Regions from separate parts of the Homo sapiens genome. Here all the other regions are linked to region 2. The links come from fine-mapping of genetic effects on gene expression. A gene starts in region 2. Each other region holds a variant in brackets. All regions are shown on one strand. Distances are from middle to middle. Region 1 overlaps PFKP (phosphofructokinase, platelet). Region 2 holds the start of PFKP (phosphofructokinase, platelet). Region 3 overlaps PFKP (phosphofructokinase, platelet).

The links. PIP is the estimated chance that this variant, and not a neighbour inherited with it, causes the effect.
Region 1: its variant is fine-mapped to the expression of PFKP in B cells (Fairfax 2012, PIP 0.95).
Region 3: its variant is fine-mapped to the expression of PFKP in whole blood (Lepik 2017, PIP 0.95).

What each region holds. Positions count from the first base shown.
Region 1 is chr10:3,118,589-3,124,699 of GRCh38, reverse strand. It overlaps PFKP (phosphofructokinase, platelet), which reads right to left. Exons shown (of 22, transcript NM_002627.5): 15 at 5,831-5,918; 16 at 4,656-4,808. Among named protein-coding and RNA genes, the nearest start is that of SNORD142, 12 kb to the left of the region's middle. The variant AAAAAC/C (reference allele first, on the strand shown) is at 3,114.
Region 2 is chr10:3,063,273-3,070,810 of GRCh38, reverse strand. It overlaps PFKP (phosphofructokinase, platelet), which reads right to left and starts at 3,263. Exons shown (of 22, transcript NM_002627.5): 1 at 3,104-3,263. The coding sequence starts at 3,215. LOC124902536 (wiskott-Aldrich syndrome protein family member 1-like) reads right to left here and starts at 4,241. Exons shown (of 1, transcript XM_047426132.1): 1 at 3,463-4,241. The coding sequence starts at 4,108. The coding sequence ends at 3,671. PFKP-DT (PFKP divergent transcript) reads left to right here and starts at 3,878. Exons shown (of 4, transcript NR_160681.1): 1 at 3,878-4,058. RefSeq lists silencers at 1,545-1,744, 1,831-2,011, 2,425-2,604, 3,025-3,424, 3,435-3,534 and enhancers at 2,155-2,224, 7,025-7,538.
Region 3 is chr10:3,094,070-3,101,607 of GRCh38, reverse strand. PFKP (phosphofructokinase, platelet) reads right to left here. Exons shown (of 22, transcript NM_002627.5): 3 at 2,256-2,333; 4 at 54-243. Among named protein-coding and RNA genes, the nearest start is that of PFKP, 30 kb to the right of the region's middle. RefSeq lists an enhancer at 5,258-6,457. The variant T/C (reference allele first, on the strand shown) is at 4,260.

The DNA of each region.
Region 1 (6,111 bases), 55 kb before region 2:
CAGGCAGGCAAGGATCAGTGGGATGGGGCACACGGCTGTAAGGACCACACCAAATGCCCGCCTTCATCGTGCAGAGGCGGCGCCCAGGTGCAGGCAGGGAAGGGGGCATGCAGCTGGATTACCGGTGGGCCACACTCAGCCCCACGCCACATCTCTGCTCTCCGGGCGGAAGCTGCCGTTTCTGCCCTCGGCAAGCCGCACACAAAGCCGCACAGGCGAGCAAGAACCTGAGTTGCTGCTCTGGGGTTCCACTGGGAAATGCGCTCCGGTATCAGAAAGGGGAGCGGTTCTTGAGCCCGTGTACACCGGGGTTTTTCAGACTCCACCTCAGGGTGTTAACCAAAGTCACAGCAGGACAGGTCCACACGCCCACTGTTCCCACCTCCAAGTGGCCCCACACAGCAAGGTGTTTTTGACATCCACGTGGTGGCAAAACCAACTATTTATGGTCTTGGACGTGTCCGTCTTACTGTGAATATCCCCACATCTGCTGCAGAAATGCTACTGGTGGGACACAGGGCGGCGCCCACACCTCCCTGGGAGAGTCGGACAGTGAGCGATCTGGGCTCTGCAGCCCTGGTGCAACGCAAAGCATCCCAAGGCCTGGAGCCCGTGTGGGCCGAGGGCTTCGGACAGTGGGTGTAGACCCGTGGCAGGTGAGTTCACAGCACGGTGGATAGGAGGGTGGGGCGGGTGGGTCAGTGCTGGGTGACCACAAGGCGAGCTGTGAACGGGGTCAGTGCTGGGTGACCACAAGGTGAGCTGTGAGCAGGGTCCCCCGCACCCCATGGCACAGCCTCCACCTCCACCCAGGCCCAGCACGTGCCCAGCTCTTGGGCCGCTCTGTGCAGGCTCTGCCTGGCAGGCTCTGGCCATGGCAGTTTTTGCAGGACTTCAATCCAAATGCCAGCTGCTTCCCAGCCAGCAACACTCATGTCGGGGCACTGGCTGGCCTGGTGCCCAGGATGTGGCCCCTCAGCACCGCCACGTGGGAGTCTCCTTATGCTTTTCAGACAGGTGATGTCGCTCACTTTACTGTGGAATACCCGAGCTCAGGACTGACCAAGACTGGCTGTGGGGAGCCGGCTGTTTCTCCGAGAAGCGCTCGCTGGAAGCCAGACGGTGTGGGTGACCTGGGACCAGGAGGGGCCTGAGGCACACAGGAGGGCAGGTGGGGGTCTCGGCAGCTTAACTCCACATTGAAATCTGTGGGGACAGCCACAATGCTGCAAATCCTCTCTCCCCTCTTCCCTATCACTCCTCTTTTCCTTCCTTCAGTCTCCAAAAAAGGGAAGGGAAGCTTCAATACGGGGGAGACCCTGCCCAGCAAAACATAAAATTCTCAAGACCAAGCGCAGCCAGGCTGTGAATCAGTCACGAGGCTGTGGTCACTGCCACCTTCGCGGCAGCTGACGGCAGCGTGGCAGCAGCTTACTGTGCTTCTGATGTGACCTTATCGAGCTTACAGGACGGAGTAATGGGCCAGTGCTAAGGAATGAAAGGGTCGGACTGAAACTCCCTGCAGCCGTATCCTGAGAACGTGTCACACCGGCTCTGAGGTATCTCATTCCTTCTGCTCTGCCCGGAGGACCACTCACCAGCACCGCATAGATTCTGAGGGGCTAAGCATCAATGCTGGCAAGAAGGAAATCATGAGAGAGGACGAGGACGCACGTGTCCAGAGAAGATGAGGCTTCACCACATCAGCCCCGCCCAGGGCTTCCGAAGCACAACACGGCGACATCCTGAGCCAGACTCCTATTATGGAGCCCACCCTGTGCTCTGAGGGACGTTCCGCAGCGTCCCTTGTCTCCAGCCCCAGATGCTGGGAGCATCCCTTTTCCCACTTCTAACCAGAAACCTCCCTGGACGTTGCAAACATCCCCTGGGGCAAAATCACCACCCCTGCCCCCATGAGAATCACCAAATTTTCTGAACAATAGAAGCCAGTATACTGGAGCCATCTACAGACCTCAAACCTAAATGCTGCCCAGGGCCATGCCATGAGTCACCAGTCACAGAGGGTGTGGCCGGACAGGGAAGAGACGCTCACTCCCATGCGTCCTCAGCCTCCGGCGGCTTCAGGACAGTGGCCGGGGGGACCCGGAGCCATCCACGTCCAGTTGCCTCACACCCTGATTTCCTGAGGACGCCACCAGCTCATGTTCTTCTATGGCCAGACGAGCCCAGTTCAGACCCAAATCCAAACCTTCTCAGGATTCACACTGTTCGGCCGTCAGTAAACAGGGCTCTGGAGAAAACAGCTGCCATGTTCACATATCGGTCCCTCTCCCTTCAGGGTCCACAGAGGGACCCTCAGCGGCTTTCTCTTCTCTGTCCCAGCTCCCCAGCAGCCACAGCATTCGCCAGGGTGACCTCGGTCAGACGGCGCCACTCACCCATCACGAGACTAGAACCACCGCACTCCCAAGACAGCCTTGTTCCTTGGAGCTCAGGATCAGAAGGGCAACAAGGACACACACATGCACTTACCAAGGTGGCTGTGCCTGGCCAACGGGAGGCTCAACTAACTACACGCTCCAGTTCTTTCTCAGACATTGTAATCAGTTAACTTCAGGCCCGGCGCGGTGGCTCATCCCTGTAACCCCTGTGCTTTGAGAGCCCAAGACAGGGGGATTGCTTGAGCCCAGACGTTTTGAGACCAGCCTGGGCAACACAGGGAGACCCCGTCTCTATGGAAATACAAAAAATTAGCTGGGCACGGTGGCACCCACCTGTAGTCCCAGCTACTCAGGAGGCTGAGGTGGGAGGATCACCTAAGCCTGGGAGGTCGAGGCTGCAGTGAATAGCGATTGCAGCACTGCATTCCAGCCTGGGAAACAGAGTGAGGCCCTGTCTCCAAAAAAAGAAAAAAAAAAAAAAAAAAAAAAAAAAAGAAAAAAAAAGAAATTGTTTAACCTAGCTTCGAGAAACTCGAATGAATGAAAAACTGCATTTAAAACAATCGCATAATAAATCACACAATCCCTCCAAGGGAAGTAAAAGCAGGTGGAAATGATCATTTGTGGGGTGTTTTTGCCCCACGTATTTTGGTTTTCATAAATTTGACCCTATGCATTTGTTACATATTTACAATCTGAAAAAAAAAAAAA[AAAAAC/C]AGTTATTTATAGCAGAGGACCCTGGAATTAAAAAGAAACTCAGCTAACTGCAGCGACCGCTCTCAAATTCTCCACCCGTTCCCTCTGGGCGAGTTCCAATTAGGTAACAATTAGGGAAAAAAGAAGCTTCAGTCCCTCCCATTGCACACCCAACTTTCACAGACCCAAAAATCTAGCTAAAGCAGGCGAAAGAGCAGTGAAAGCAATGACGGAATCCAGTCTGTGAAAGAGGCTCATCTTCACATTCACAGTGCGAAGGTAGGTCCAGAGCCGGGCCAGCCCCGCAGCAGCAAAGCCGTGACACCCACCACCAGGAGAACAGAAGCAACGTCTAGGTCAGAGATTAGCAACTGCCAAAAATAAGGTGAAAGTTGCCCCCAAAGCCAGTGAACACAGGAAAACCTGGGCAGGTTTCCTTCGCAAAGAAAGTGAAGAAAGTTTAAAACGCTCAGAAAAGCAAGAAACGAGTGCTAAGCATTACTTACCATATGAGCTGTATGTTAAAAGCTTGTTTTTTTATTTACCAGTGCTAGAAATAAGTTTCATGCCAAGGTTTTACAAGAAAAAATATCTTTGAAAAATATTCATGAGAACCAAGTCTCACAAGAAAAATTAAAACTTGAGAATTACTACAAACTTTTAGACATCAAATTTTAAAAAAATGAAATGCTTTCTGTGTTAGGTACGGATCTTCAAACTCCCACATCAATTACCAAGCGTGACACACAAACATGGGAATAGGTGTATATTTCTTTTAGCCGGGAATGGTGGCACATGCCTGTGGTCCCAGGTACTCGGGAGGCTGAGGTGAGAGGATCACCTGAGCCCGGGAGGTCGAGGCTGCAGTGAGCTGAGATCACACCACCGCACTCAAGCCTGGGTGACAGAGTAAGACCCCGTCCCACAAAGAAAAAAAGAAGAATATATTTCTATGTTTTATTATTGTCTCTTGGCAAAAAAACTAAAGTAGCACCAATTATTGCCTTAGAGGTAATTTAACATCCCCAGTTTACAAAGGGGAAAATGAGGTCAACAGCCAAGACCAGAGAGATAACAAATGCAATGGTGCATTCAGGGCAATGAATAAAATTATAAAATATTCAGTTCAATTTCTACCCTCAGCATCAAGGCAGGGGTTCATCATAATGGGTATTGGAGGCTCAAAGAAAATTTAGGCTCAGCACACACACACACACACACACACACACACAGCGATTTTTAATGCTGGTACAATCACAGGAGACTGCGACCCAGCCCTCCTCAGCGCCTCGGGTGCTCACGGGCACCCCTGGAGTCTCGGCCACACTACGTCCCCCTGGTGGCCACACAGAAGAAGAGGTGGTAAAACTCTCTGGGAGTGAGATCAAAAATTTTCAGAGTCTTAAAACATACTTTTCTGGGGGAAAAAAAGAACGAGAAGCTCTCATTCAGGGTATTTGTAAAAGGCTATTTCTAGCGCACTGGTAGATAAAAAGGGCCGGGGCCCCGGGGTTAGCGTCAGCCGGCGCCCGCCTGGCAGGGCGCACACGGACTTACGTCGGTGATAGTGTTCAGGGCGGTGTCTGCCCCGATGCTGAAATCGGAACCCGGCACATTGTTGGACACAGTAGCGGGAACCATGACCATGGGGACACAGAACTCCTCGTGCTTCTCCCGGGCGGCTGACAGCTCCAGGAGTCCCAGGTAGGCCTGTCAGACAAGCGTGGGAGTTGTGGGGCGAGAGGGAAGCTGGGGAGGAGAGGGTCTCGCTGGGAGAGGCTGGGAGCGCCACCTCCACCACAGCACGCAGGGAGCACACTGGGGCATCACGAAAACACTCCGAGATCAACACACAGTTGCCTTAAGACCACAGACAAGGATCGGCAGGTTGTAAGCACAAAGGGCGCAGGACAGACATGATCGGTTAGATGACTAAACCTCTCATGGGTAAGAGTCTCATTTCTGAGGTTCTTACTTTGTTTTTGTTTTTGTTTTTTGAGACGGAGTCTCGCTTTGTGGCCCAGGCTGGAGTGAGGTGGTGCAATCTCGTCTCACTGCAACCTCCGCCTCCCGGGTTCAAGCGATTCTCCTGCCTCAGCCTCCCGGGTAGCTGGGACTACAGGCACCTGCCACCACACCCGGCTAATTTTTATATTTTAGTAGAGACGGGGTTTCACCATGTTGGTCAGGCTGGTCTTGAACTCCTGACCTCAGGTGATCTGCCCGCCTCGGCCTCCCAAAGTGCTGAGATTACAGGCGTGAGCCACCGCGCCCGGCCAGTTTTTACTTTTTCTAAAAGTAAATGGAAAGGTTACCATGGGACTAATCTTCATGAATAGAAAAAATATTAGGGTCTACAGTCCAATATGTGATTTTAAACAAAATTCTAGGTATAACTACCTTAGTCTCTAAGTAGCCACTGGACTCTGGACTCAAGAGATAGAATTACTTCCACAGGCCTGAAATACATTAAGAGCTCACTGAATAGATGAGGCCCGGGTTAAGGAGTCAAGCTTTTGCTTCTCGGTTAAGTTGCTTTACTGGAACTGGGCCACTCGTAGGCCACGTCTTACCACCTGCTATCCTGCTGTTCTACAATTCTCCAGTGGCCGCTGGGTCTGGGAACCTATCATCTCGGATCGTGGCCAGTAGCCAACAAGTAGCTTAATGTTTAGCCAACACAGGGCGCGGCTCACACCTGCAAGACCGGCAAGAGAGAAACGGTAACGTACCTCGAATCCACCGATGATCAGCAGCGCGTTGATGCTGTGCGTGCGCATCTGTGTGGCGATCTCTTCCAAGTACTTCCCCGGGAGAACGCTGAAAATAGCCACGTGGAGAACGATGTCAGACACCCCAAACTCCACGCGGTCCGCAGGACGCCACGCCGGTCCCCACCCGGCCGCCTTCCCCAGTCTGTGGTTTTAATTAAGGAGCGGTAAACGTCTGCCTTTTCACTCATGCCGTTGTGGCTGGCAGATGGCAGAATGACCAGGAATCTCATCTCAAAACA
Region 2 (7,538 bases):
CAGTGAGCTATGATGGCACCACTACACTCTGGCCTGGGTGACACAGCCAGACATAAGTACTCTTCGTGGTCTACGGGAGAGTACAATATTTGGAATTAAGATCTGTTTTGCTCCTATCACAATCACGTATGCACCTCATGCCCTTACCTAACTTACTTTTCTTTCTGAGTCTTTCTCCCCACTTCCAAAATGAGGACACGCCTCTCTTGGGATCATGTATTTAGGCTTGGAGATAAGAAGTGTAAAGCTCTTAGAATACAAAATGTTTTCAACAAATGGTAGCTATGATCATCTTAATATACGGAATTTTACCATAATTTCACATCTGACAGAAAATTCCCCTGAAATTAATACGTGAATGTGAATATGTTCTCTCATCTCTAGCTACAAGCAATAGTCTTCTATGTCAGGGAAAATCAAGTACTAACATAGAATCAGAATAAAATGGTAAAAGAATGGGGACACTGAGATATTCTCGAGGAATAACCTACTTACTGTAAGGGTTTGTAAATCTGTGGCAGCTAAGACCAGGCCCTCTGAGTACATCTGGAGGTGAACTTCCTTAAAAGAAATGCGTCCAAATGCTCCAACAGGTTCAAGATCGTATCACCGAAGGGTAAAGCTCTTTACAGAGTCTACAAAAAAATTGTGACTTCAGCTCTGCCAGGGAAAGAGTGCCCAGGCGACCCGCCATGGCGGGCTTCCCCAGGGACAGCCCAGGTGTGACCCATGTGGGCTCGAGGCCACCATATTTGATGCCACCTGCAGAGCTGAGGGCAGCTGTCTCCTATTAACCCGAGGTTGCAGCAACCAAGCCGCGTTCCCCACATAATATTGGTTTCCAAAGTATCATTTTCCCCAGAAAAGAAGAGGCGTGGACTTACTAACCTTCAATATGTCTAACTCCTCCCAGGTGGCAAAACCAGGGTAACAGAGAACACCGCGATTCTGCCAATGTATCCTAATCTCACATGCCTGTACACAAACTCCCGCGCATTTTAGCAAGCTTTTGGACATGGAGCTCAAAGGAATGACCCATAAATATTTTCCAATACATGCAGTATCTTAATTTTTTTTCTTTCTTTTTTTTTGTAGACACAGAGTCTCACTATGTTGCCCAGGATGCTCTGGAACTCCTCGGCTCAAGCGAGCCTCCTGCCTCGGCCTCCCAAAGCACTGGGATGACAAGCATGAGCCACCGTACAAGGCCCACAGCACCTAAATTCCAAAATAACCTTGAAACCCTGACTTTCCACCCGCCCTGGTGGCTTCCAGAGATCAGTTCCTCTTCCTGTGCCAAAGGTTTCTTGTCTTTCGCGGCCCAGGTAAGGTCACTCAAGGTGCTCCCTCTGCTTCTGAAGGCCTTTGACTGAGAAGCCACTCTGGGTCCTATCCCGACCCCAAGGCGGCTCCATTCGTACCCGCACATCTCCGGGCCGGTTTAAGTCACGCGGGCCAGGCTATTTCCACTTCACTCTCCTGTTTCTTCAATCCCATCCTCTGCTGCATCACGTTTTCTTTCTCTGAGAACCCAGCCCTGCAGGAAGAACGTTGATGCTGGGGTCCTTTTACTGGAATGCTAACGCCAGAGCACTTCCCGGGGGCGCTGCAGGGCGGGCTGCGGGGCGGGGCCTGGCGCTGCCACCCGGGTCTCCCGCGGGGGGCGCTGGGCCTGGGGAGGCTGCGCTGCGGGCCTGGGGAGCGCGCGGCGCACGGGTGTCGGGGCCGGGGCTCGTGGAGACGACGGGCCGGGCATCACGTAGGCGCTCGTGGCGGGCGGGGCGGCGCCCACAGCGCCTCAACCTGCGGCACCCGCGCCCGCCCCGCGCGCTCAAGGGCGAAGGGAAGGTCACCCGCGCAGTGGGCAGGGGGTGCATCCCCGCTCCAACCCTGTGCAGTGCGCGGCCCCGAAACGGGAGGAAATCCGCCATCCGGGCCTTTCCACGCATCTGCGGCAGGAGGAACCGGGAAAACAAAAATCAAAACCCAGCTCGGGGCGCGCCGCGTCTCCAGCCTGCGCGATCGCTAAGGCTCCCAGGTTGCGTTCGCCTGGGAAGCGCCGATCTACCCGCCAGGGATTGCACGGATCGGGACACTCCATCATCCGGGCACCGGCGCCCCCACGTGCACCCGGGGCCTGGGGCGCGCCGAGTCTCCGCCACCTTCCGCTCTTCAATGTTAAATATCCTCCCGGCGCGCCCGCGTCCGTGGGCCCAGCCTCGGGCCCCTCCTAGAGAGCAGCTTCCACATTGCAGGGCAGGGAAGCCCGGAGCCCGCGCCGCGGCGCCGCTGACATCCCGGAGTCCCCGCTTCCTGATCCTTCCCGTCTGCGGAGGCTGGCGGGGAGGGCCTGGGACCCATTTTGGTTTTCGTTTTTGTCACGAGCCGGAAGGCGACAGCACATGCGAGCGCAGGAAACCCTTTTTAAAAATCTCCCAGCGGAAACGCGAGGGGCTGCCGGACCGCCCTGGAGACGCCAGGCGGGAACCCCGCGCACCCCCGCCGCGTCCCGCATTGCAGCAGCCAGGACCCCGCCCACGCCGCGCAGGGCACGAGGCGACAGGAGGCGCGCGGGGACCCAGCCGTTTCTTCCTCGACATTCTAGGGGGTGGCGTGCGGCGGAGTTGGGGGGCGGGGGGGCACTTAGGAAGTGATCGCGCTGTACCCACGCTTCGGAGGGGACGCCCGGCCCCGTCCTACAGCTCAGAGGCAGAACGACCCCCGAGGGCGCTTCAGGCGACTCCCTCTGCCAGGTTCCATTTAAAACAAAACCGAAGGTGGAAAACTCACTGATCTTCCGGATGGAGGTTCCTACCGCCATGTCCCTTCCTCCCCCGCCCCACCGGGCAAGGACCCCGGGGCTGCCTCGCCGGCTCATGCCGCCCCGCAGGTACCCCTGCCGCTTCCGGGCGCGGGCTTCTTCCCGGTTCTCCCCATCGCTTCCCCGCTCTTCTCCCCGGTTCTCCCCATCGCTTCGCCACCTTTCCCCGGGTCCCCCCCATCGCTTCCCCCCTCTTCTCTCCGGTCACCCCATCGCCTTCGCCCGGTTCTCCCCAGCTCCGTCCGTCCGTCCCTCCCTCGCCGCCGGGAGGGGGGCGCGCACCTTGAGCATCCCCGCCGCTGGTCAGCACGCCGATGGCCTTGCCGGCCCCGGAGAGGTGCTCCAGGAACTTCCGCAAGGAGCCCTTGGGGGCCCGGGAGTCGTCCGCGTCCATGGCGAGGAGGCCGAGGGGAGCCGCACGTCCGGGTGCGCAGCAGGCAATGGGGACCCTGCCCGCGCGCGCCTGACTCGGAACCGCCGCCCCGCCCGCGCCCCCGCCCGGCCCCAGCGCCAATGGGCGGTGACGGGCGGGGCCCGAGCGTATGGGAGGGGCTGCGGGGGAGGGGGCGCGGGCGCGGCTAGGGGCAGGGGCCGGGGCTGGGGCGGGTGTGGGCAGGAGCATCTACGCGGGGGTCGTCGTAGGTGGGGGCCGCGCTAGCGGTGCGGGAGGCGGCAGAGGCAGGGGTAGCGCCACAGGTGGGCGGGTCCCTGCTAGTGGGGCCGCATCGCAGGTGCGCGAGCCTCGCGGGTGGGCTGGAGGACTCTGGTTGGGGGCTCTAGAGATGACGGGAGCGCCACAGGTGGGGCAGGGGCAGCGTCCGGAGGAGGGGAGACCGCAGGGGGCCGGGGTCACATCGTTTGCGGGGCGCGCCAGGGCGGGGCGGGATAGAACGCCGGGAGCATCTCCCGGGGGGGCGAGGGAGACCGTGAGTGGGCGCGAGCGCCGGGGCGGGTGGAAACCCCGCAGTTGCGGGGAGCGCCGATGGCGGGGAGGGGTGGAATGGGGGCGCGGAGACCCCACCTGGACGCGGAGGCTCGCGGCAGGCCCGGCCGCTCGGGCCGTTGTGGGGGCCGAGCCCGGCCGCGCGCACAGCTTCTAGTGGCCCGCAAGATTCCTCCTGGGGCGGCGCTGGGAGCCTCGGGGCTCGGCTTCCTCGACCCCCGCCCCCAGGTTTCCTCTGCAGCCTGAGGTCGGGAAGGACGGACGGAGAGTGGATCCTCCAGGTGGTGGGAAAAGGTGAGCGTGGCGGGCTGGGCCATGACGAAGCTGCCATTTCCCGGGCCCATGGGGGCTGTGGTGCTCCTGGGCCCCCAGCCCCGCCCTTGGGGGGAAGAAGCCGTGGGGTGGAGGAAGGTATCGGGGCGCGACCCTCAGAGACGCCCTGGCGGCGCCCCGGCCTGGGCGCTGGAAAGTCAGAGTGGGGCAGGAGGAGGCGCAACAGGACTGGCCTGGCGGGGAGGCGGGGAGGCGGGAGGACCCTCCCTCCCCACGGACACGCGCGCTGCTGTACGCTCTGCCTGACCTCGGCCGGCTCCACTGGCCAGCTCCACGTACTGAAATACTCACATCCAATGCACTGTGCGGTTGCCCATCCACAGCTTAACAGCCTGGTGCCAGTTACCCTGCGATGGGAGAGGGGGCAGCCCCCATAGAAGCACGGGCTTATGGGACCCGGGTTCCTTCAGTGCTCACCCACGAAGAAGGGCTCCCAAACGGCCCCACTCGACGGCTCACCGGAGGATGGTCCTGCGCAGTGGGTGTTTGTTGAACAGATAAGAGACAACAAAACAGACTAAGAAGAGGCCTGTTCTATGAACCGGGGAAAGTGAAGGAATCACAAAGAGCGGCTCGCCTTAGGGCAATCCTGGGGAAAAGATGGAGAGGCATGGATTTTTCTTGGATGTGTGCCTCATCCTGGGGCTCATCCCTCTGAGCATCAAATATTCATTGCAAAAGAGGGGGAAAAACTCTGCTGCGGACAATGCTGGATGGTCTGATCTCTCCCTTGGCCAGAATTAACGGGGCAATTCCTAACCCCTGTTGGTCCTCAGAATCACCTGGCCTATGCACACTCCCGCTAAACCACTGAAGTCCAATTTCTGGGAGCTCAGCCAGGGAATGTGTATTTTTAAACAAGCCCCCTAGGTTACTCTGATAAGTGCAAAGTCAGAGAGCGCTGCTCTCATGCACTGAGCCTGAGCACTCTTCTATTAATAAAAAAGGAGAGGAGAATCCTGGGTTGGGTGCCCTTCGCCTTCTGGCGGCAGAAGAGCAGAGCCAGGCTCTAAGCACCTGCACCCACCGCTGGGCTCAGGAGCTGCGCTGGAGAATAGAAGGGCTAATTTAGTCATTCATGCCTTTTTAGAGCAAATTACATGTGGAGAGGGTGGGGCACACTGAATTTTATTTTAGCCAAATGCCCCTTATCTCCTTATGCAATTGATATTTTTATATTGAACATTAGAGGATTGGTCATTTGTCATCAAGTCGTCTGTAATACAGAAAACGATAAATACAACCTAACAGTTCAAACATGACGAGTTAAATAAATGATGGTTAAAAATATACGCTGCGATAATATTTAATTGCTGTTACCACTACGAAGATAAGTGTCGACTGACATGGAAATATGTTCAGGTCAAACAAATAAATGAAAAGGCAGGCCTGGACACAGTGTGAGCCTGTGCTTGCATGTGCGCACGTGTGCGTGTAAGTGTGTGTGTGAGTGTGCACACACGTAAATGTTTCTGAGCATTTTATTTCCTTTCTTTTGCTTAGTATAGGTAATGCCATTTTTCTCTCCAATGAACAGGTATTGTTTGGGGAATAGAAATAGTTAATTAAAAACAATAAAATTTAGAGTGTCCAGATCCCCAGGGTTATGGATTATGTTCAAAAGTTTGTCTGTATGTAAGGGCTGGGGTCAGGGTGGTCACTGACCGTCCTCACACATCTATTCTCATGAGTTTGACCCATTGCTCAGTCAGTCAAGGAATTAACATATATTTATATATACCTGTAGCTAAGATGGAAAAGCATAGCTATGGCTCTTTTTTTTTTTTTTTTTTTTTTTTTTTTTTGCAAGTCGTGTATTTTAATGGTGCTACAACTAGAGATTTTTTTTTTGTTGTTTAATCTTTGGCCTGAGCAATGAATCTTCTAATTCAAGAGGAAGATACTGCATGCCTTGTTGACTGTACGGCTTCCACCCAGTAGGACCTGACATGTGTGTTTGTTCTTTATTGTCCCTTGACAGATTACTGCAAACTGTGGCCCACACCAGCACACACTTATACCACAGGAATGATTACTCCTTGGACCAGGAGTTCAGACAGGCTTCACTGGGCCCTCTGCCCCAGGGGCCCTCTGTGGCTGCAACAGGTGTCTGCCCAGGGCTACAGTGTCTTCTGAAGGCTCAGGCTCATCATGGGAGGAGCTGCTTCCACGCTCACTCCTGTGTTGCTGGCAGGATTCTGTTGCTTGCAGGCTGTTGGACTGAAGGCCCCAGTCTGTCCCTGGCATCAGCTTCAGGCTGCCCTCTGCCCTGGGCAGGTGACTGGCTTTGCCAGAACTAGCACATGTCAAGAGCCAGGGGGAGAATTCCAGTGGACGGAACCTGCAGCCCTTCCCAATCCAATCTCAGGAAAGACCGCCGTCTCTTTTGCCTGATTCTGTTCATTAGAAGTGAGCAACGGAGTCCAGCCCTCTTCGAGGATCTGGCTGTGAACACTAGGGGCAGGGGCCACGGGGAGCCACTGGGAGGGGAGGTGCTGCCTGGGACCTGCCTAGGACAAGGTGAAGGAGAACATGCATAGGGACAGATGCCCTTCCCACTTCCCCTCTGCGGTGAGCGCAGGAGCTGCCCATGTGCCCTAAAGGAGTCCTGCCATCCCAGGAGGAAAGCAGCTCCTAGCCATGAGGGCACCATAACCCTGTGTTCCGGCATGTTGGGCTGCACATTCCACCACCAGGGCTACCTGAGCTGCAGCCTCTTCCCTTCCCCTGCTGTTTCTGCCTGTGCATGGAGTAGGCATCTCAAATCTGCAGGGGCCAAACTGAGCTTAGGCCTCTGCACCCCCACGCAACCCCCCACCCCTCGGTCTTCCTCACCTCAGCTCCTGGTGACCCCATCCTCCCAGGGTCTCAGGCTGAAGCCTTGCAGTGCTCCTCTACCCTGGCATCCAAGTCTCTCAGGAAGGTCCCTCCTGGCTCTTCATTGCATCTGGAGCCACTGGGGCCAAGCTACCACCTGTGACCTGGACTGACACAGGCTCCCTCCCCATCCCCTGCTCTGCCCCCACCTCCACCCCACCTCCATGCCTCGGGTGTCCTCAGCTTCAAAGTCAGGGTGCACCTATCAGGATGTAATTCAGGCATCTCCTCTGCTGACTTGGGAGTCACAGGCCCCACACATGGCCCACTGGTCCATCGGATCCTAGTGCTGCCCAGAGACCCATGCAGGCACCCGACAACCTCAGGCCCAGCCTGCTCTTTCCTCAGCCCGGGCCCTCCTCTCCCTACCCACTCTTCCCACCTTCCTCAGGTCTGTCCTGCAAGGTCTCCTGCATGGTGAGGCCTCCCCAGATCACCCTGTTAGAAATTCGGGCTCCATGCACACTCCTGTTCCCTCCCCGCTTCTCTTAAAACAGCCTCATGCGTGTCACACGTGGGGCATTTCACCTATCTGCTGGGCTTCTCGACAGGCCCCCCTGCTGA
Region 3 (7,538 bases), 31 kb before region 2:
AGCTCTGAAACAGGGCGAAAACCCGCAGGACAGAGGAGCAGGTGTCCACTCACCGTTCCTGGCCAGCTCCTCCAGCAGCCCACTCCACTCCTTCCGGAAGAGGTTGGCCCCGGTGAGGCTCCCGTCCCCGCCGATCACACACAGGTTGGTGATGCCGCGCTGCAGCAGGTTGCAAGCAGCCTTCAGGCGGCCTTCCCGCGTGCGGAAGGCCTGGCACCGCGCACTGCCAATGATCGTCCCGCCCTGGGAAAGACACCAGCTAATTTATCTCCTCTCAGTCTGAGAGAGCGCCAGGTGGATGGCACACACAGGCCGACTATAAACATGGGGTGCTAGAATTTACATTTTTCTCATTTTCATCTTGTGAGTTAGTAACTAGCTATGAAAGACTGTGATTTTCCTGTTTTTAGTCCCAGACCAGCATTCCATGGACAAAGACAGGCGCGTGACACCCAGGAGGAGCCAGGGAGGGTGCAGAGCCAGACACACGGCAGCCAGCAGTTAAATACATGGAGCAGGAACCAGCCTGCGGTGTCACAGCAGCCGCCTCAGCACCGGCCAACGAGCTCAACCAGGTGCACGTGGAACCAAAGACAAGCCCACTGACCACCAGAGCATGCCGGCCAGGACAAGGGAAGCGGTGTGACCAGCAGCCAGGCTTCTCCCTCCAGTCACCCCTTACAGCACCTGCAAGTAAAACCAGCAGGAACCTGGGGCCAGGGGGATTTTTTTTTTTTTTTTTTTTGCACCACATACTCGCTGCCCCTTTTAAAGAGCTATATCTTCAGGATCTTAAATTCTTTCATCCAAACTTCCAGGGGACATAGATCATGATTCGTCACACTTGGTTTTCCAAAAACTAAGAATTGTTGGTGGGATCCACAAATGCAAGATTTCTTTAAATAAAACCATGAATGCACCAAAAAACTCCATCCGTACGGGATCCCTAAGCGCGTGCTGACTTTGTCAAGCAAGGTGCTCATAAGCACAGCAGGGGTTGTCTCTGCACTGGAGGCGAAGCTCTCCCTGCCTTCGGTCTGCAGGCAGCTCCCAGGAGACCCCTGCAGTGACGTGAGTGCGTGTTTCGATACACCAATGGTGCACGCACACAGCTCATTTTCACACACAGAGACTCACTAATATTCCAAATCCCAGAAAAGCTCCTATTTTTACATGAAACCTACCACCATTTAATTTATCAAAACATTATGAAAAGGTTACAAAAACTGAAATTCACTCCACACGATCCTACGTCACTGGCACCAAGTGTGACCGAGACCATTTACAACCCAACCCCCAAGGCAAGTGAGGGTGGGGGCGCAGAGCAGGGCAGGGGTGCTCTCTGGACTCTGCCTGGACAAAAACCTGGGGGGCAGCACGAGAGCCAGCACAATGGGAGCTAGAGCCAGCAACCCAGAAACTCCAACCAAAGAGACGAGGTGGCCGCAACTCAGGAACGAAACCAGGATAACTGGGCTGCAGAGGAGTGGGTGCCATTCCCATTCTCTCACTCACTCTCTTTCACACACACACACACACACACACACACACCACACACCTACACATACAAGGACACCACATATACACACACCCCACACACAGATACACATTCGCTAGCCAGAAATTCACACAGTTAACACATACACACGGGCACACCACACATACACACTCAGACTCACACACCTACATACAGACACACACCAGACTCACACAGTTACACACACACCGAGATTCACACACCACATACACCACACACAGAAACACAGACTCACTGATACACATACGCACTTCAACTCTCCGTTCACATCTTATCTTCCTCCGTCAATCACGACCGCAGAATGGAAACGCTCCCCTGTGTGAATTCAGCCCACACTCTCCTGATGTTTTGCAAACGTTGCTCCACCTAACTTCCGTGGTTGTCAAAATTCCCTCCACCTCTCTTCTGATGTGTCGGAGCTCAGGAGGCGCCCAATGCAGAGAGAGCCTGGACCAGCACGAAGGTGTGGGCCCCATGAGCGTCTTCAGCGGGGAGGCACCGATTTGGATTATTTCTATTAACAAGTACTCAAAGTGACTCACAGATTAACACATGCATTTCTAAAAATCAAACCACAAGTAAAGAGCTGCTCACAAAGTCTGTTCTGTCCACATAATCTCTATTTCGCAACTGATCTGAGCTCAAGTGTTCTGGGAATTTACTAGACATAAAAGAGTCTCTAACTCAGAGAACCCTGTGGACGCAGCCCAGTACCTACCACTTGCAGGATGCTGGAGACACTCTCCCAGTCGGCCTCTGCGATGTTTGAGCCTCCGTCCACCATGCCCTGGTAGCCCTAGGGGAGAAAGGGAGAATCTTTTAAAAATGAGATAAACTTCACTAAATGGGAAGTGATCCTTAAATTATATAAAACGGGAAAAATGACAGTGAATGTCAGTTCCTCAGCATCCACTGGTCAGAAGACAGGGCAGTTCCAGCACTGGATAAAAGCAGTGAATTGTGGGAAAGTCCTCACCTTGAGTCCCTAGTAATGGGAACGTCTGCCTAGACTCAGCCTCACAGTGCAATGAGGAATCAAGCCATTCTCCTATGGCCCAGCGTTTCCCGAGAGGTTGAAAGGGTCGTGTTTCGCTAGAGGTTGAAAGGGGTCACTTTCACCCAACGTGTTTATCATACTTCAGCACAAACTCACAGGCACACAGCACTGTCGAGCACGGGACATACATGGGAGCATTTTGTCAGGGGCTCCGCCTGCCAAGGCACCCTGCGCCACTTGGGATGTATGTTGAATATTATTAAACAGCACAGCTGAATAATAATTGTCTGCCTTACCCTCCATTAATGACACGGTGCTGCATTAGGGAATCAGATATCAATATGTGAGGACACATTGATAGAAGAAGCCCAAGGACAATTACCTTTTTTTTTTTTTTTTTTGAGACGGAGTCTCACTCTGTCACCCAGGCTGGAGTGCAGTGGCGCGATCTCGGCTCACTGCAACCTGCCTCCCGGGTTGAAGTGATTCTCCTGCCTCAGCCTCCTGAGCAGCTGGGATTACAGGTGCCTGCCACTGCACCTGGCTAATTTTTGTAGCTTTTAGTAGAGACGGGGCTTCACCTTGTTGGCCATGCTGGTCTCAAACTCCTGACCTCATGATCCGCCTGCCTCAGCCTCCCAAAGTGCTGGAATTACAGGCGTGAGCCACCGCGCCTGGCCAACAATTACCTTTCAATGCTAAATGCATCCCCATCTTTTTCTCCACGGAATATACAAGATCAGGAAATGCAGCAATGCCCACGGGTAACTTCATCTACATAACTCACTTTCCACAGCATTTAATCTTAAGAAGGAATAACTATTAAGGATTTAGAAAAGTTCATGATAGATTATTGTTGGATCCATAAGCCCACCTTAGTGAAGGTCCGGAGGACAGAAAAAAGAAAGGTTTTTAAAATTGAAATGACTCATAGATTATGGAGTTCTATATATAAATTAATCAATAGTGCAGGCACCTTGATAGCTGGCCAATTTGTATACTTATATTTATAAATTTCTACCAGAAATATTATATATATATGTGTGTTTATTTTATTTTATTTTTGAGACAGAGTCTTGCTCTGTTGCCCAGGCTGGAGTGCAGTGGCACGATCTCGGCTCACTGCAACTTACATCTCCCAGGTTCAAGCAATTCTCCTGCCTCAGCCTCCAGAGTACTTGGGATTACAGGAACACACTACCACATCTGGCTAATTTTGTTTTTGTTTTAAAGTAGTGACAGGGTTTCACCATGTTGGCCAGGCTGGTTTCCAACTCTTGACCTCAAGTGATCTGCCTGCCTGGGCCTCCCAAAGTGCTGGGATTACAGGCGTGAGCCACCATGCCTGGCCACATGTGTGTTTATAATTTAGTGTCATACATGTAATAAACAAGAAAGGAGAAAACAGTCTGGAATGGAACAGAACCCAAAACAGAGCTGGTTCATTTCAGCGCTGGCAGCCCCGTCTGCACCTCCCGAGACCCCCCAGGCACCCAGGCCCTGGCTCACAGGCTGGTACAGGGACTGCCCATCACCAGGCCCCCTACCTCCATGGCAAAACAGCAGAACATCTTCTAAACACAGCCCAGTCTCACTCTAGGGATTATTATTATTATTATTGTCTCCCCTTGCTCTGAAAACAGATTTCCCTTGCAGTGCAGATGAGCCCAGTGTAGCCGTCCCCCGGAGGGCGAGGGTGAGCAAGTGTGAGGTCGGATGCAGACC[T/C]CGCCTCTGCACAGGGCACCCTGGGAGGCACCGTTTATGTTCTGTCCTGCTGCGGATGCTCTGTCCACACAAGGACTCACTGGTAACAGACGGTCATGTGCAAAGCCATGAATGACTCTTGGAGGCCATAATCCTCAGAATATTGTAAGTACAATAGGTAGGTAGGCGGGTGGGTGGATACATAAATAAAGAGATAACCTAGCCTTGGGGTTGCAGTTTCAGTGATCTCTACCACCCCAAACTCCCAGGTTTTTTTGTTTTTTGTTTTTTTGAGACGGAGTCTCGCTGTGTCACCCAGGCTGGAGTGCAGTGGCGTGATCTTGGCTCATTGCAAGCTCCGCCTCCCGGGTTCCTGCCATTCTCCCACCTCAGCCTCCTTAGTAGCTGGGACTACAGGCACCCGCCACCACGCCCGGCTAATTTTTTGTATTTTTAGTAGAGACGGGGTTTCACCGTGTTAGCCAGGATGGTCTCGATCTCCTGACCTCGTGATCCGCCCGCCTCGGACTCCCAAAGTGCTGGGATTACAGGCATGAGCCGCCGCACCCGGCCTCCCAGGTTTCTGCTAAGAATTATGCTTCATTCTGCAAGCACAACAGAGCGCTCCATTCTTCAGGTCTGGGAGCAACACTGAACAAACTGCCATCTGCAGTGATCCTGACTTTCCAGATTGACTTCCATGAAGCTCGGGGGGGCAAGGAAACAAGGAAGCAGGCATGTAGCCTGGGCCACCGTGAAACGGACCCTTCTTAGAGGCACGACCTCCCATCCTCCAAGCCCACATCTCAGGAGGAGAGAAAAGATGACCCATGATGGGGCCTGAACTGCAGCAGAAACCGGGACCTCCCTGAGAGGACTGGGATGTAGAGCGGCCGTAAACCTGGGGCTCCGGCAAAACTGAAACAGACAGTTCCTACATTCCCACACCCAGAGCTGTTGCGGTCATTTCTGTGCATGCAGTTTTTTGGTAAATAAAGAGACCGGGGGGAAGGTGCCAGTTCCGGCCGCCACCCTGCTGAAGAGGATGCCAAGGCCGCTGCAGCATCCTGAGGCCGTCTCAGGCCCAGGAGTCAACCATGCACCCCTAACGGCATCAGCTTTCAGAGTATTCCTGGAGCACGCGCTATCCCGGACGCTGCTTCCAAGTCAACCGCCACCCAGCATTTTACTAGTTAATATGCCATAGTGGGAACCATACAATTTCCTTTCCCTGCATGAGTTCACAGAATTTAAATACGGATTTAATCAAACATGTTAACGAATCCTCTTGCTTCTGGAGTAGTAAGAAAACTGCTCTGCAAACCACAACATTTTGAAAAGTAAAATGTTCTCTGAAAGTAATTTCATTATTTTGTGTTGCATAGATGCATGTGGCAAAGAAAGCCATTAAAAAATAGAAAGGGAGGGCTTTCTGAGTGCCACCTCCAATGCTCCCTGTCTAGTGCATGCGTGAGCTAAGTTGCTAGGAAATGACTCATTCTTTAATTTGCAAAGTCACGACGCCCATGGAACATGTGAAAAGCAACTACCAGCCGCAGTTCTAAGCCGTCTTTCACCAACAAGGAAGATATTACTAAATTAGGAAGACTCATTTTGCCCAAACGTACTACAACGTAGAAATTCAGATGAGTTTTCTCTTTTGAAGTCTTCTTAGAAGGCTGAATATTTATCTTACTACAGCCAAAGCCCAGACGTTTCCTAAAACACCCTTTTGGAATTTGCCTTCCAAGCCAGTTTTATGACTCACATAGGAAAAACAGAGCATAAAACCTTTAACCTTATCTCAGTTTTTTGGCCAAAGTAACATTCTCTGTCTTGTTGACTCTGACTCACAAGATGAACCTTAGAGCTCCTCGTTGGCTGTATCGGATCCATCGTCGGACAGAATTTTTTACGTTGAGTCATTCGATCACATCTAAGAACATGCCACAGGCTCTGAAGTCATTTCAACTTATTCGAAATTGTTTTGAGCTGTGTCAAAATAACCAGCCTTCTAACCATGTAGGAGATCATTCTATATGTAGAGGTGGTTTTGACTAGAATTTTTAGGCAATCGCCGAATCCATCATAAATGGAGTAAGCTAGTTCACCTATGCGCGTAGTTCACCTATGGGTGGCTTTCTCGGACGTCTCATATGTAAGTTTTTTTTTTTAAAGTTACAGACAAAGGGAAATTATACCGTTGTGTTGCAGCAGTAGGCTTTTTCTTTCAGAATGCTTGTTGCATGGGTCCATGTGTCTTCTCAACTGGATAATGCTTTTTTCCAATCTGATTTCCTGAATTCTTCACTCAACTAACTCCAAATGGTGAACATTCCAACTACCAGAATAAAACAAGCTCCTAGAGATAACAGACTTTAAAAGTGCCTTCCAGATAGTGTTATCACCAGCTTCCTGCAGACATAGTTACTGCATCCAGAGATGTAGGGGCTTTGCTGCTTCTGAGTAAATACTATTTTTTTTGTTTCCTACAGAATCAAGCTTTCCCTAGTTTAATCCTTTTCCCTCCCCCACAGAACCTAAAGCTACAACATTCCTTAATAAATTAAAGCATTTCACTTTTAGAATTCAGAGCATGCATGCAGAGGTCAGCTCTGAACGGCTCTCTAGGCTTAGACTTGGGAAACACCAGCGTTCCAAACTAGGTGTGCGAGAAAGAGAGGCGGCAGGAATTTCACTATGTCAATGGTTTTCAAAGGCCAGGAATCGTGGCTTTATCCTGTCTCTAGGAAATTCAGAGGCAGAGCCTGAGATTAAACAGCCCCACACCAACACACATCCCAAGCCCTGCTCACCTCCCCACCAACACTCTGAAGGAACGCTCTTGTCCAGAGACCCTACCAATCACCCCAGCAAAGCACCCTCACTGATTTCATTACTTGATAGAAAATTTCTATAGAGCAGCCTCAGGATTTCTTCTTGGGAGACTCAGTCAACTGTAAAATTCTAAAATAGGTTAGCACACGACACACCATCATGTGGTCCTGCACTTGCTTCTTTGGAAGACCAATAATGCAACAGCATGATGTATTTAGCCCTCTGGCATCACAGATTTCTTTAAGCCAAAGCTAAGAGTGCACAATTCCGGTAAGTTGTACAACCAACAGCCCCAGCAGGAGCGAGGCCGGTCGCCCTTCCTCCCCTGTAGAGAGAGGGTCCCAAGCACTGGCCTGGCAGTGACCTTACAGCAAACCCCACCTTGAGGCTCATTCAGCTGACCACAGTGGTGGGGAGGTGGTGGTGAAGGGAGATGGTGCTCTTCTGCAGTTTGAAATGTTC